2 linked regions of the Homo sapiens genome follow. The protein of the gene in region 1 interacts with the protein of each later gene in a pairwise test. Each region holds a gene or a part of one and is shown on either strand. Other genes may lie near its edges.

Region 1 (7,022 bases):
AGCTTTGCAAACTCCTCCAAGGCAGGTGTGCCCGTGAGCCTGCCCCACAGACCCCAGGGCAGATCACCAAGACAGAAGCCCCTGTACCTTCACTGAGGCTCTGCCTCCCTCCCTCCAGAGTACTGTAATCTTAATTCTAACACCAAGTGTTGCTTTTCACTGCTTTTGGATCTTACGTAACAATCCTACAGCTGTACTCCTTGTGACTTTGATCAGTTCAATTCCAAAGTTGATCCTAGCAGGGATATGCCTCTCAGAACCCTGTCAATTTCACCCACGGGTGCCAGCCACCCTGTCCCCATCCAAAAGCATCAGCTCAAACCAGTGCAAAGGCTGTTTCACAGTTAGCATTAGGGAGCCCTCTCAGTAGCCTCTGTGCTCCCAGGTCTGGGTTGGATCAGAGGCAGGAGTTCTGGGGCTGATCATGCAAGTTTCTAACCACGCTAGGCCTAGGTGTGGTCCTGTTGGGAGGAATGCTGAGGAGTGAGCCCTGGGGCAGGTGACGCTGGATGCAGAAGTCCCAGGTAGGTAGGGTGGCAGGGTGAGCCACGGGCAGGTGGGCCTGTGAACAAACCCTCCTGAGGATATGATCAGGTTGTAAATGGAACCGTAACTTTTTGGGTAATGTGAGTCAGCCCTTAAGCCTATGTTAACCACCGAAAAGAGAATTAACCTTTGGGGCTTTGCAAGGCTCCAGCTGGTGTCATAAAGTAGTAACAAAAAACTGCTCTTCAGTAGCTTGAGGGAAAATCTTTGAAAAATACCTCCCTGGGAGCAGCTTCCCCATCTCAAAAGATGTAGCATAGTGCTTTTACAACACCTCGCCTGCACAATTTTCTAAGTGGAGTTGCAGTATTAAGGCCAGACCTCAGCCCAGGACCGCTCTCCACTGAGCTCAGAGCTGTGCAGTCTGAGCCCTTCAAAAACATCAACTGGATTCTGCCAGCAGAAACAGTTCTTGATCATTGTTCCCTGTTATCTGTGGCAAAGTTCTGACTATTCATGATCATAAGCTGAATATGAGAAGAGATCCAGTATACAAATGTTTTGCCCATGTGAAAATAAGAGCTCAGGTTGCTTTTATCAATTTTAAATTATTGCAGAGAAAGAAAGCAGGTAAATACTTTCATGAGAGAGCTTTTTGTCAAAGGTTCTCACGTCTTTCCTCAAGCTACTCTTAACAAAGTACTGTATGTGACAAAATTAAGTTTATTAACAACTTCAGGACAGCAAATGAGTACAAGAAAGCAGGAGAGAACTACACAGAGTTAGGGTAATCTACAGTTGGAGATGCAATACACAACACTGTGGTTTTGCTGGGGAGGCCGGTGCCATTTTATTCCAAAGCAGGAAGGAATCTTACCATGGATTTATGAATTAGGTGGACTCCCAAAGCAGTAAAAATGGCAAATGTGGGTGGTGCCATGAGTTACTAGATTGATCCCAGGAGTTAAAGATCAGCCCAGGCAACATGGCAAAATCCTGTCTCTATAAAAAATACAAAATAGCTGGGTGTGGTAGTGCATGCCCGTAGTCCCAGATACTCGGGAGGCTAAGGTGGGAGGATCACCTGAGGTCAATACTACAGTAAGCAGGGATTGTGCCACTGCACTCCAGCCTAGGCAACAGAGTGAGGCCCTGTCTCAAAAAACAAAAACAAAAACAAACCGTGGTCAGTATACATGTGGTGTACTTTTGATGCTGTTTCCATGCCTAATACACAGCAGGGATAATTTCTGCAGGCTGCACAATTGGCCTAAAGTCATACTGTCATTCTGATGGTATACCTGTTTAATTATCATCACCAACAGTAATAGGAAGCCATGAACACTTTGGCTCCTATCTTTTTAGCAAAAAAAAAAACAAAAAAAAAACCCCAAAAAACAAAGAACAAAAAACAAAACACAAACACACACAAATGCAACTAATGAGAGGCAGGAGGGGCTATGGAAAGCATTCTCACTTTCCTTCTTGGCAACGCCACATCTATAAGCTTTGCACAGAAGTGCACAGAAGTTACTGCATGATGGTGAGACCTGATCGGGGGTGCCTCCTCTTCCACTGGATGCAGCTCAACAGGGCAAGGGAAAACTCATGCTGAGATAACAACATCCCTTTGTCCAACAAAAACCTCCAGGTGAGCATGATAAAGAGATCAAAACAAAAAATATATACTAACCATGGGGATATTTCTCCCTCATGACGGGGATACTGATCCCCAAGGGCCTTTTGGCTATGAAGATCAACTGCTATACTCAATAAAGGGGTTCAGAACATCATTTTTTCTGTATTTTTACAATAGCTAATGCTTAACAGGAATGTTTCCCAAGAACTGCTTGCCTGAACTGAGACCAAGCCTATGGGAGGGCTGACACTCTACAGAAGAGGATCTGACCTACTCAGCACAGGCCTAGAGGGCAGAATAAGAGCCAAAGGAAGGAAGAAAGTTAAAGAAATGTAAAAATCTGATTCTATTTAAGGAAGAGCTTTCTAACAATCTGTTTTCGCCAAAAATGGGATTGGCCTACTCGAACCGACGCTGCGCTCCAGCAGGGCTGGATGGCCATCTGTCGGGGACGGGCGCGGGCCCAGTGCCGGCTCCAGGACGGGCGGCTGGCTCAGTCTGAGAGCCTGGGAGTACACGCATTGGCTGAACCGATCACAGCTCATGAAAAAACTAAGCATGCTGGGCGGAAGATGTGGTTCATAGTTTTAATTTGTGGCTTTGTCTTTTCTGCTTCTAGAAAACTGAGGAAGAAAACTGACAAGGTTTTCAAGGGAATTTCCAGGTCACCCAGAGAACTCGCCTTGCCTTGTTCTACTTCCTACAAGTCTCTAAGCACTTCATGCTTTACTAGAATCTTGTAAATACAAAAAAAAAAAAAAAAAAAGAAGACACACAACAAGTCAACAACGTAACAATGTTTGGCATCACTAAAAAGATGGTACTTTGGTGAAAGGTAGAAATTGGAAAAATAAAGCTCAGGACAACCTTCAAGTTTTTCTCTATTCATGCTACCCTCTTTTTTTGGTAACCACAGTTAATTAAGAGTTATAAGCATAAAACAGTGTTTCTTTCAAGTGGCATGCTTATGTGGGGGAAGAAAAGATGAAAGGGAGGCAGCTCAGTGGAGAAGGAGCATATTGCTAATCAAAAATGAAATTTCTCCATCAGGCTGAGAATCTACGATGGCCAGTGAGCTGGTATGATTCATACGAAGTTCCATGTCTCACTTATCTCTCCAAATCATGGTAAGAACCTAATCCATACACAAAAATACTACCTAATACATGAAGGCTTTCGATGATTTTGCAGAGGGAGTTTAGACTTTTCAACATGGCAGAAAAGAAAAGATGAACATTTTGCAACACCCACCACATTTGGTGTATAATTTTACTTTCAGTTTTCCTACGTATTCCTCATTCTCCATTCCCCAAAAGAAAACAAATCCTCTTGTTAGAAATTTTTTTAAAACCCCAAGTAAATGTGACACAGGTGATAATATTAACTCATTTCACTAGCAAACCCTTAAGTGATAACCTGCAGTCTTGGATACAGACAACATTATACTCATAAGAAGGTAACAACGTTTTAAATGTCAGCTCAGATGAGTCATTCTTCAAAAAAGTCCTCGCAATTATTTTCTCAGGTAATCTGAGGCAGTAAATACTGTAAGTCAGTTCCGTGTGCATGTAAAGGCAAGACTGGATACTGTTAACTTTGTGTAACTCCAGGAGGGCACTGCCCATAACCTGACAACACCTGGGAAAACAAGAGGCACATGGGGAGCCGGGCACGGTGGCTCACGCCTGTAATCCCAGCACTTTGGGAGGCCAAGGTGGGCGGATCACAAGGTCAAGAGATCGAGATCATCCTGGCTAACACAGTGAAACCCCATCTCTACTAAAAATACAAAAAATTAGCCGGATGTGGTGGTGGGTGCCTGTAGTCCCAGCTACTCGGGAGGCTGAGGCAGGAGAATGGTGTGAACCCAGGAGGTGGAGCTTGCAGTGAGGCAAGATCGTGCCACTGCACTCCAGCCTGGGCAAGAGTGTGAGACTCCGTCTCAAAAAAAAAAAAAAAAAAAAGAGGCACATGGGGACAACAGTATGGCTGAACTAGGCCCCCACCATGGAGCGGCCTCTGATGTCACAAAGCTGCCCTCTTAGCTAACGGCACCCAGGACTGTGGTGTGATGTAGCATCCATTTCAGAGAGGGAAAAAGTGCTTTGGCTGTCCCCTGCTCTAGGCACGTAGGCCAAATGGACAGGATTGTATAAGAGAGAAAGAACTTCATGTCACGACACTGGCAGAGCTGGGTAGACTTAGAGGTGAGAATTCCAAGTCAGGCTCCTCTAACGTTTTGATACAAGGAGATACCTGTGCAGGGGTCCCAAGCACACAAAGTGTCTCCATACACAGGACCCCAAACTCCAGAATCTCCAGGAAATGAAAAACATCCTCTTTCTCCATCTTCATCTCTTAATTCTTAGATTATTAAAAAAGACAACTAGGAAGATATTAACTTTTAAAACAGACTTTTTTTTTTTTGAAACAGCAAACTAACTAGAAAGACGAACAGTGTCCCTTGAAATGCACAAGGCTTCCTCTCTCGAGGGTGAAACACTCACCTAGTGTGTCCTTCAGGTTCTTCACGAGGGAGCCCTTCTTCAGGCTGTTCTTCCGCTCCACGTAGTTGGACGGTACATAGCCCGTCCTGTTGGCCGCGTTCCTCACCCGCCACCACGTCTTGGAGTCGTCCAGCAACCACAGCCGCTCGTTCTTCTTGATGTCCAGCTCCTGGTCCTGCTGGGCGGTGTAGTCCCACTTGGCTATCACAATAACTTCTTCTGTCATCTTTCATGGAGTCCTTCTGCCAGCAAAACATTTGGAGATGCTCATTAGAGAACTACCCGGACACTTCATCCTTTGCACCAACTTGAAAAATTAGGCACTGACAGCTTTTATTACAACTCTGCAACCAGTTTTCTCCTGGGTCTTGAAATGCTCAACTTTAAAATGACCTTCTTTCAACAAGCTTTAGTATTTGGTTTAGAAACAGCAACCTTATAAAACAAATCTTATGTTACTGTTTGCTGTACATGGGGAAATCTGACCCTCTAACAAAAACAAACTTGAAAAAAATTCTAAATAACATTATAATTAAATGAGTCCATTTCATTAAGTAACACTGCCTCCTGATAACTGTTAGGTTGACACTCATTTTCTCAGGATATGCTGTGTCTTATAAACATATTTAATAAGTCAACATAACCAAACTACTCCTATAAATTAAAATTAACATTGTACTAATAACAAGGTGGTATCCTGGATTGGATCATGAAACAGAAAAAGAAAATTAATGGAAATACTGGTGAAATCAAAATAAAGTCTAAGAATAATAATAACAATAAATAATTGTCAATCTCTTAGTTTGGACAACACACCAGTAAGATGTTACTGCATTCACATAAGATGTTAACACAATGAGAAACCAGGTAAAGGGTATAAGGGAAAGTTCTGTACTATACTGGGAACTTTTTTATAAATATAAAATTATTCCCCAAAACTTTCATTCACACAAAAACCTGTGCAGAGACGTCTGTAGCAGCTTTATTCATAATTGCTCAAATTTGGAAGCAAGCAAAATGTCCTTTAGTAGGACACAGTTTATAGATACATAAACTGTGGTATATCCAGACAATGAAATATTATTCAGTACCAAAAAGAAATGAGCTATCAAGCCATGAAAAGACATAGCGGAACCTTAAACGCATATTGCTAGGTGAAAGAAGCCAATCTGAAAAGGCTACACACTGTGTGATTCTGACAGTTTATCCTTAACCAAACTTCAGCCAAATTCCTTTGAATCTTCTTCCCTTTAAGGCCTCAACTTTTGCACTTCCGTGTCCATCTCTGCATTGCCCAATTTTTGCAAGACTCTCCTGCTAAGGTGCTCTAGCTGGAATCCTCCACTCTCAACATCTGATCAGGTTCCTCATCCTCTACCATCCCCCAGGTGACAGCTGATCACCCTGTCCTGCCTTCAGAAGAATCCTGTTCGGTCAGTTTAGCCAGAATCCCCACGCTCCACCCCTGATGTTTCCTCTTAGTAATTTTCCACCCACCAACTCCCTTATTTTGCTCCTTGCCTATAAATGCCCACTCTTCCTTGTTGTCTTAATATTAGGAGTCAAACCCAATCTCTTTCTTGACTGCAAAACCCTACTGTAGTAGTCCCTCTGAATAAAATCTGCCTTACTGTTCTTCAACAAATGTCATGAATAAGTTTTTTCTTTAAAACGGTATGACATACTGGAAAAGACAAATCTATGGAGACAGTAAGAAAATAAGTGCTTGCCTGGGGCAAGAGGGAAGGGAGGGATGCAAGGGTGAAGCACAGGATTTTTAAGGCTGTGAAACTACTCTGCTCAATACTATAATGGCGGACACCTGTCATTATACATTTGTTAAAATCTATAAAATGTGCAACATCAAAAGTGAACATAACATTTTTCCAAAATGAAAAGTTTATCAAAACAACAATAAATAGATGCGTGTATTATATATCCAGTAAAGTCAATTTTGGAAGTAATAAATAGCAAAAGTGTGGCTGAATAAATAAAATAAATAATCAACTATTTTAGCAACTCTCTACTTCTTAGGTAGAAGATGAACCAATATTCTTTAAGCAGAAAAATTCAATATTCAGTCCTTAAACTAACTAGACATTTCTCCAAACTAGGGAGAAATGAATGATGAAAACACTCAGGACTAAAATCCCCTTCCTCCCTGACAGAGAAGTTCTCATTATTGTATAGGGATGACTTTAGGATTACAGGGGACCTATGCACATTGACTCCATGGAAGCATAAATACCATTTTTAAATAACATATTTTCTACTAGATGCTAAAAAAATTTTTTTATAAATAATACACGTTTCTTTCATGAATTAACTTCCAAATTTAAAGATAACAAACCTTTTGGGAAGGAGGAAAGCCTCTGCATAATATATACAAT
Region 2 (7,871 bases), about 69 Mb from region 1:
AGCTTTATGATATAAGCAGAAGTGTCACCAAGTTTACCTCTGAAGAAGTGAAAAGACTTAAAAAGGAAAATATCTTACTTGAGATTGTTAGTTTTAAAGATATTTACTGTTGCTGTGACATTTAAAGCAAAACATTTGTAATCTCAGATTCCCAAGGCCGGAAAAGCACCTCAAGAAATCATACTGGCTGGGTGTCGTAGCTCATGACTATAATCCCAGCACTCTGGGAGGCCAGGGTGGGAAGATAGCTTGAGCCCAAGAGTTTGAGACCATCCTGGGCAAACATAGTGGGACCCTCATCTCTACAAAAAAAAAAAAAAAAAAAAAATATATATATATATATATATATATATATATAATTAACTGGGCATGGTGGCACACATCTGTAGTTCCAGCTACTTGGGAGGCTGAGGTGGGAGGACTGCTTGAGTCCAGGAGTTTGAGGGTGCAGTGAGCTGTGATCATGCCATTGCACTCCAGTGTGGATGACAGAGCAAAACCCTGTCTCAAAAAAAAAAAAAAAAAAAACAGAAAAGAAAAAGAAAAACAGAAATCATACAATTTATAATGTTGCTTCCAAGCTGCACTTGTGAAAAAAAGCTCTTACAATTCAGATAACTTCCTCCACATTTAGTTGTTAGGTGGCCTTGGGTAAATTACTTAGCTTATGTAAGTCCGGTTTTCAAAATAATAGCACCTACTTAGTAGGGTTATTCAAGAGTTAAATGAAGGAGTGCTTAATAAGTATTAGCCATTTTCAAAAAATAAAATAAGCAAAGGTGAAGAACGTAACACAAAATAAGTGGTCAGTAAATATCACAGTCTTTCCCCCTATTTAACCACGAGAAAGAGAAACCATGAGCTGATTTAAATCAGCCTATGTGTGTACACCCATGCAAACTTCCATATTACAAGTGAATGGTGAAGGGAGATGTGTATAAAGTGCATTTCAAATTTCTCAGAAAAGCATACTGATTAAGGCATTCCTTATTCTAGTATTTTTTTACAGTTTTAATTTTCAGGACAGACAGAGGTATTTATGGAAGTCCAGGAGAAATGCTTTCTTCAACAACAAGCACATGTTTAACAATTTGGACAAAATGAGTCAAACCTTAAAGCAGAAATATATCATAATTTAAACAGCCAGAAACTTCCAAAGTAAATGATGTGTGTTCATAAAATGTTAAGAAGGCTTCAAAAGGTCATAACACTTAAAGGGTCCAGGAATTCAGTATCACTTCATCTCATATTTTAGGTAGGCTGGGGAACTTCCAGCCTACAGGCCAGATTTAGAATTTGATCAGATCTGAAGTTGCTGCTCGATCCCAGGAACTAATTTTCACCACAGGGAGTTCTCTGAATATTTCAGTCCACCCAGAGTATGTGTAACCCTTAAAAGGTTAGATATTAGAGTAGCTGAAGCGCTATGAGCAAATAGCCCATGAATAAACTTTTCAAAGAGCAATAGAAAACCTGACTTAGTGAAAAATGACTTTCAGGTAAGTCATTTAATGACCTTAGACTGATAAAAGGAAGAGTTTTGACATGATGATATTCCAGTACAGAAGAACAAAGCTTGATAAAGTTAACACATAGCACTGTAGTCCAAGTGAATTGTAAGAGTATGATTTCCACACAGATCAACCTCAAAACCTTTTCCCAGTTTCTCATCTTCCTTTCTCACTGTCCTGTCCTATTCTTTCCCCAGTCTTTCATCTTTCTCTCTACCAAGCTGTCTTACTTTGCTTAGTTAGAATCTTTCAGTAGCCTTTTCATTTACCACCTCTCCATTCTCTACTACATATACTAGTTATGCCATTAAATTATTTAAAATAACTTGTATGCCTGTAATCCCAGCACTTTGGGAGGCCGAGGCGGGCAGATCACTTGAGGTCAGGAGTTTGAGACCAGCCTGACCAACATGATGAAACCCTGTCTCTACTAAAAATACAAAAACAAAAAAAACAAAAAACTTGTACTTAGTGACTAAAGTTATATGTGCCTTCTGAGTTTTTTAAAGCTTTATTTTATATTTCTTCACGGGGAGAAAGGAACATAAGTCAAATTGTTTCTTCCTACATATTCTAGAAAAAAGTTTTTTAATGTAAAAAGTTTCCTTAGTTCTGCTCTATAAGCCTCTGAGTAGATGGCTTGAAATTTTAAAAATCACAATATTTTATGCCAAAACATTAATCATATTAAACATAAAGTTATAACTAATGCTGTAGAATTTGATTTGCGATAGTAATTGTGCACACACTGTTATAACAGGAATAGACTTATTCTAAAAGACAAATCGTATTATAAAAGACTCTGCTTAGAAATGGTTTAGTTTGAGTTTTGAACTTAAATAGCACATTGGCAGCAACAGAACTGCAACAGCTTAGTTCCATGGTATTTTCGTTTGAAGCTTCCAATGGCTCCTTGTACTTTAAAGCACTTATTGTTGCTGGCCACACCAAAGATTCAAAGGCAGTTGTGTGGACAACTGTATCATACACCAAAAGGATATATTTACCGACATAAGCCCCCAATTTAAATGGGAAAATAAATTCCTGTGGATCCAAACTTGTCCAGTGGTCAAAAAAATTCTATTGAAAATCTTGCTTACATTTTGGCTCAAAGCATAAGTTATGAATCATTCACAATCACCATAGTGGTGAAACTAGCATTCTGGGCAACAGGAATAGCTCACATGGTGCTCTACAGAAAAATTAAACAACTTTATCTTGACATACTATGGTCCATTAAAAGCCATTTAGTTCTTCCCTGTAGCTGATAAATGAAATAAACTTAGTTTGAATATAATTTTTCTTACCGTTAAAGGGTACTGCAGGGAGCCATGGTCAGGGACACAGGCAGACAGAGGGCCAGCGGGACAGGAGCCAAGAGAGAAAACTGTCCCTGAAAAAGGTATCATCTTCTAACGCAAGTGTGGGGTCGTTTTTGGACAGCCATTTTGGACAAGCTCTGGCCTCTTGTTAAATGTGACATACTGAGTCAGAGGCAGACGTCCTTCTGTGGTTATTCGCTTCCTGTCTGATTAATTTGTTGTTTGTTGTTCCTTCCTCCTTTGCTGCAGAAAAAGAAACTAGATTGGTTTTGCTTAAGAAGCAAGCAAGAAAAAAAACCTAAATTAAAAAAAATTAAATGTTTCTCCTCCCCACAAGGTGTAATACACAGCTATTTGGTACAGTGACAAGAGGAGATGAGCACCTCCACTCAGTGAAGAGTCCAACTTTATTCTAGATATTCCCACAAAAATAACTGTTCATGGAACTTGAGATTCCTTTAGGAAAATTATATTTGAAAGTATCACTGTAAATACTGACTATTCCATTGAGTAATAGGGAAAAGAGTCACTCAAGAAAGAAAAGCTCTTACCTACCTTACCTTATCGCTTCATTAGGCTAAGGGCTTCTTCTCATTTACAGGGCATTCAAGTGTGTGGGGAGAAAGTTACAAATGCAGGTAAAGAGAGCAGGTCAGGTGTATGAAGGCAAATGAGGTTCTTTTTTTGGTTTTGTTTTATTTATTTCTTTTTTTTTAGAGAGACAGTCTTGCTGTCACTTAGGCTGGAGTGCAGTGGCGTAATCATAGCTCCCTGTGGCCCTGACCTCCTGGGTTCGAGCAATCCTCCAGCCTCAGCCTCCTGAGTAGCTGAGACTACAGGCATATGCCACTGCACCTGGCTAATTTATTTTATTTTTATATTTGGTAGAGATGGGATCTTGCTTTGTTGCCCAGCCTGGTCTTGCACTCCTAGCTTCAAAGTGATCCTTCCATCTTAGCTTCCCAGATTGCTGGGATTACAGGCTTGAGCTACCATACTTGGCAGCAAATGAGTTTTGAAACGTGATTTTGGTGCCCAAGTCAGGGTAATAATATACAGCTTAAGTCAGCTGCAGATCCATAGCTTTCTATGCCAAATGTTTCTGTCCCCCACACTTAATGGGATAACAGTAACTCTCCTAGAAGATGCTTGACAAAAGCATAGAGATAAAGAGGGTGGAAGGAAGAAAGTCAGATTTCTCATTATTAAAGAACTCAAGAGGTGGATGGCAATGGAATACATGTAGAAAACATTTTATCAAAACCTTGAGTTATGTATAGAACGATCTGAAAATGCTCATAATTTTTTCTTAACCCATCTTAAAGGTTCAGACTTACATATGCAACACATAGTATATAACTCTGAGAAAACAGTAACAGTCAAAGAATTTAAAAGAGAGGCATATTTCAGAAACTAGCTTCATTGTAAAATCTGAATGTTGGGTCCTGATTCTGCTAGGATCAGAGGCCAGAGGCATGAAAAGAACGTATGTTGTCTAACATTGCCTTACCTGTAAAGTGATGGAACTGGGCTAGATGAGTAATTTTCAACTCAGGTAGCTGTTGGGGGTGGTGAGCAGTGAGTGGGAATGGTGGGGGCAGGGGCCTGTAGCATTCAGTGGGTGGGGCCAGGAATGGGAAATTTCCTATGGTGCTTATGACAGTCCCACCCAAAATACCAGAAGTGCTCCTACTGGGGAGTACTGGGACAGATGATGTCTAAGGATCTTTTAAACTCAAAATTCCCTGAGATAGGAGTCTAATTGCATGAGCAGATTCATGATGCCAGGCCATGGGCACAGTTCCTGGAGTGGAGTACCCAAGAATAAGTGACTGAGAGTCCTCTGCTTTGCCTGGAGCCCCTTGAAGGCAGGGACCGCCTCTTGTCTAACTCTGGCCTGGTGTCCACCCGTGACTTAGGTCACAAATAAATACCTGCAGGCATGGGGCTGGACAGAGGTGGAGGCCTACAGCTATCAGCCACTTCCCGCGATACAAACCCTCAGGAAAACAGAAAACTTGATCAACTATTAAGTAAATGCCTGAGTGAATCTTTGGGGAAGTCTAATTATAGTTGGGTCTAAAAAGAGAACATGGGCGATATGACAATTTCTCTACGTATTTTCAGAATTATTTTGAAGTTCTCTAAGTAAGACACCCCAAACACACACACACACACTCTCTCTCTCTCTCTCTCTAGCTATCTCTCTCTCTCTCTCTCTCTCTCAGTACACATACCATTCATGGCTATTTCCATCCCTTAGGGGAGTGGTCCCTAACCTTTTTGGCACCAGGGACTGGTTTTGTGGAAGATAATTTTTCCACGGAGTGGGGGCAGGGGGTGGGGATGGTTTCAGGATGAAACTGCTCCAACTCAGATCATCAGGCATTAGATTCTCATAAGGAGCTCGCATGCACAGTTCACTTTAGGATTCTTGCTCCTCTGAGAATCTAATGCGCAGCTGATCTGATAGGAGGCAGAGCTCAGGAGGGAACACTTGCTCACCAGCTGCTCACTTCCTGCTGTGTGGCCTGGTTCCTAAGGGGCCATAGACTGGTTGGAGACCCCTACCTTAGGAAAAGCTCACTTAGAAGGGAGTATGTCACCTAGAAGGCTGCAGTCCCCAAGACATGCAAGGGAGTAGTTGTGTAGTTTGAGTCTATTCCTACAGTCAACTTTGGACACATTTATCAGGTGTCTACTATGCATGTTAGGACATAAATTAGATAATGTTCCTCCCCTGCTTAAAACCCTCCAATGACTTCTCATTTCACTTAAAAAGTCCAAACTCTTAGGTCCACAGGGACCCACGAGATCTGGCCCCTCCTTAACTCTCTGCCTTCATCTCAAGTAATATTCTGCCTTGCTAATTTACCTTCCAAATCTTTCTGTTCCTTAAATGCACCAAGCTCATTTGCATCTTCAGGCCTTTTACTTGCAAGCCTGGTACTCACGCCTGGTACACTCATCTTTTTGTTCCTTTTTATTCTTCAAATGTCAGCAAAAATGCTCTCCCTCATGACCCATTTCTGCTGTTTTCTTTTATGCATAGCATGCGTCACCGCTTGACACTGTCTTATTTATCTGTTTATTTACTTGTATGTTTCTCTCCACTAGAATTCAAGCTCTATGAGAGCAGGGACCTTGTCCATCTTGTTTCTGCTGTTGCTTCAGCATCTAATGCAGGTGTTTGACTGCTGTTGCTTCAGCATCTAATGCAGGTGTTTGAAAATAGTGTTTGTTGAATGGAAAAGAAAATCAATGTTTCTTACGAATTCTACTACAGCATAATGTTCCTTTTTTTTTTTTTTTTTTTTTTTTTTTTTTGAGACAGAGTCGTACTCTGTCACCCAGGCTGGAGTGCAGTGGCATGACCTTGGTTCATTGCAATCTTCACTTCCCAGGTTCAAGCGATTCTCATGTCTTGGCCTCCCTAGCTGGGACTACAGTCGTGCACCACCACGCCTGGCTAATTTTTTTTTTGTATTTTTAGTAGAGACGGGGTTTCGCCATGTTGGCCAGGCTGGTCTCCAACTCCTGGCCTCAAGTGATCTGTCCACCTCAGCCTCCCAAAGTGCTGGGATTATAGGTGTGAACCACCACGCTGCCCAGCATAATGTTCCTTTAAAAGCTTAAGACTGTTCCCCCTGAAATGGTAAATAACAAATGCCAAGACTAGACTTAAGCCTTCTTGGGAGAAGCTGTTAAAGGGAAATTTTCCAGAGAAAAGGTCAGCAGGTAAAACCCTTGGCCCATCAGTGGGCCTGGCAGTGCAGGCAGAGTCTTATGCAGTGCAGGTGGCTTACACCATTGGGCAATGTGAAGAGAAAAATGGATTAAGAAAATTGAAAACAAATAGAACAATCAGAAAGGAAGGGGGGGAAATAAAAAGATAAAGAAAATAAGGCAAGAAAAGCTGGAGATGGGGAGAGATCATGTGGTGGGTAGAGGAGAGCTACAACCACACTGCTGACCTCAGAGGCTTTGGAAGCCACCTCTGCAGTGGATGACCCACAGGTGCTGGATGTAACAGTGCTGTCTGGCCTTCCGCAGTGAAGCGGAGTTCTCAGCTCAGTGTCAGCTTTTCCAGCAGCCACGTTCTTTAAAAAGAAAAGAACTTTAAGGCTGCAGGAGACTTGCAGAGATCAAAGTCTACATCACCACTTACAGAGGAAGAAACAGGGGTCCAGAGAAGTTAGGCATCCTGCTCATGTCACACAGCTGGCAGCAGCAGAGCAGTGGCCAAAGCCTGGGCTCCACTCCACTGTCCAGCGCCATTAATGTCTTTAGCCTCATTTCAGGTTCGGGTGATACCACCTACCTCCTTTCTGTAAGTACAAGAAGAGGCAGAAGAAAGAGGGTGGAGAGAAAGGCTGTGATGCGGATGGGAGAGGTTGTTATACTATAACCAAAGGCCTGAGATAAGTGGATTGAAAGCCTGGATGAATAAAGACAATCACAATTCTGGACTTAAAGAGAATTTTAAATGCGTATCTCTTTCCCATTTAATATGCATCAGTCTGAGCTTAATGACAGAGTAAAACAATAACCAATAGGCTCGCAGACCAATCACATAAAGAATCCTCCATATTAATCTATAGAAATAAAAAACCAAGAGCAGGCAGAAGATTATAAAACAATAATGTAGGTCTAGCCAGTGTAGAAAAAGTGCTGAAGAATCACAGCCTCCTGCCGTGGCCCCCAGTCAACATGGACTGAATCAGTGCAACAGTGGCATGTGTAAAATATGGCAACATAAGTTTTAAATAATTCTGGTTTTTCAAGTTGTGTTTCCATGACTACCTGTTATGGTGCAGTATTTCCCCAGTAGTGGAAAGGTGTTTTATAATACTGCATCCCGCAGTTCTAAAACTTACATTATTCCTTCTTATACTGCAGAATGACTCCTTATAGATTTTTAGGGTGAAAAAGAAACACTACCAGATTAAAGATATGCATTAGTTGTAAGAATCTATTTTCAAAATGTTAAAATATGGGAATTATTTGATTTAAAAGAGCAGAAACAAAGGAATAATCC

Evidence for each region. Proteins that work in one complex are often made in the same cells at the same time.
Region 2: the proteins of NCK2 (region 1) and WIPF1 interact in binary tests that used the Homo sapiens proteins (3 or more experiments, as listed by UniProt).

Annotation. Positions count from the first base shown.
Region 1 is NC_000002.12:105,852,900-105,859,921, reverse strand, and holds part of NCK2 (cytoplasmic protein NCK2), read right to left. Parts: intron 4,875-7,022; 5' UTR 4,859-4,874; coding exon 4,633-4,858; intron 1-4,632. UniProt on the Homo sapiens protein: Adapter protein which associates with tyrosine-phosphorylated growth factor receptors or their cellular substrates. Maintains low levels of EIF2S1 phosphorylation by promoting its dephosphorylation by PP1.
Region 2 is NC_000002.12:174,594,783-174,602,653, forward strand, and holds the start of WIPF1 (WAS/WASL-interacting protein family member 1), read right to left. Parts: upstream 3,023-7,871; 5' UTR 2,819-3,022; intron 1-2,818. UniProt on the Homo sapiens protein: Plays a role in the reorganization of the actin cytoskeleton. Contributes with NCK1 and GRB2 in the recruitment and activation of WASL.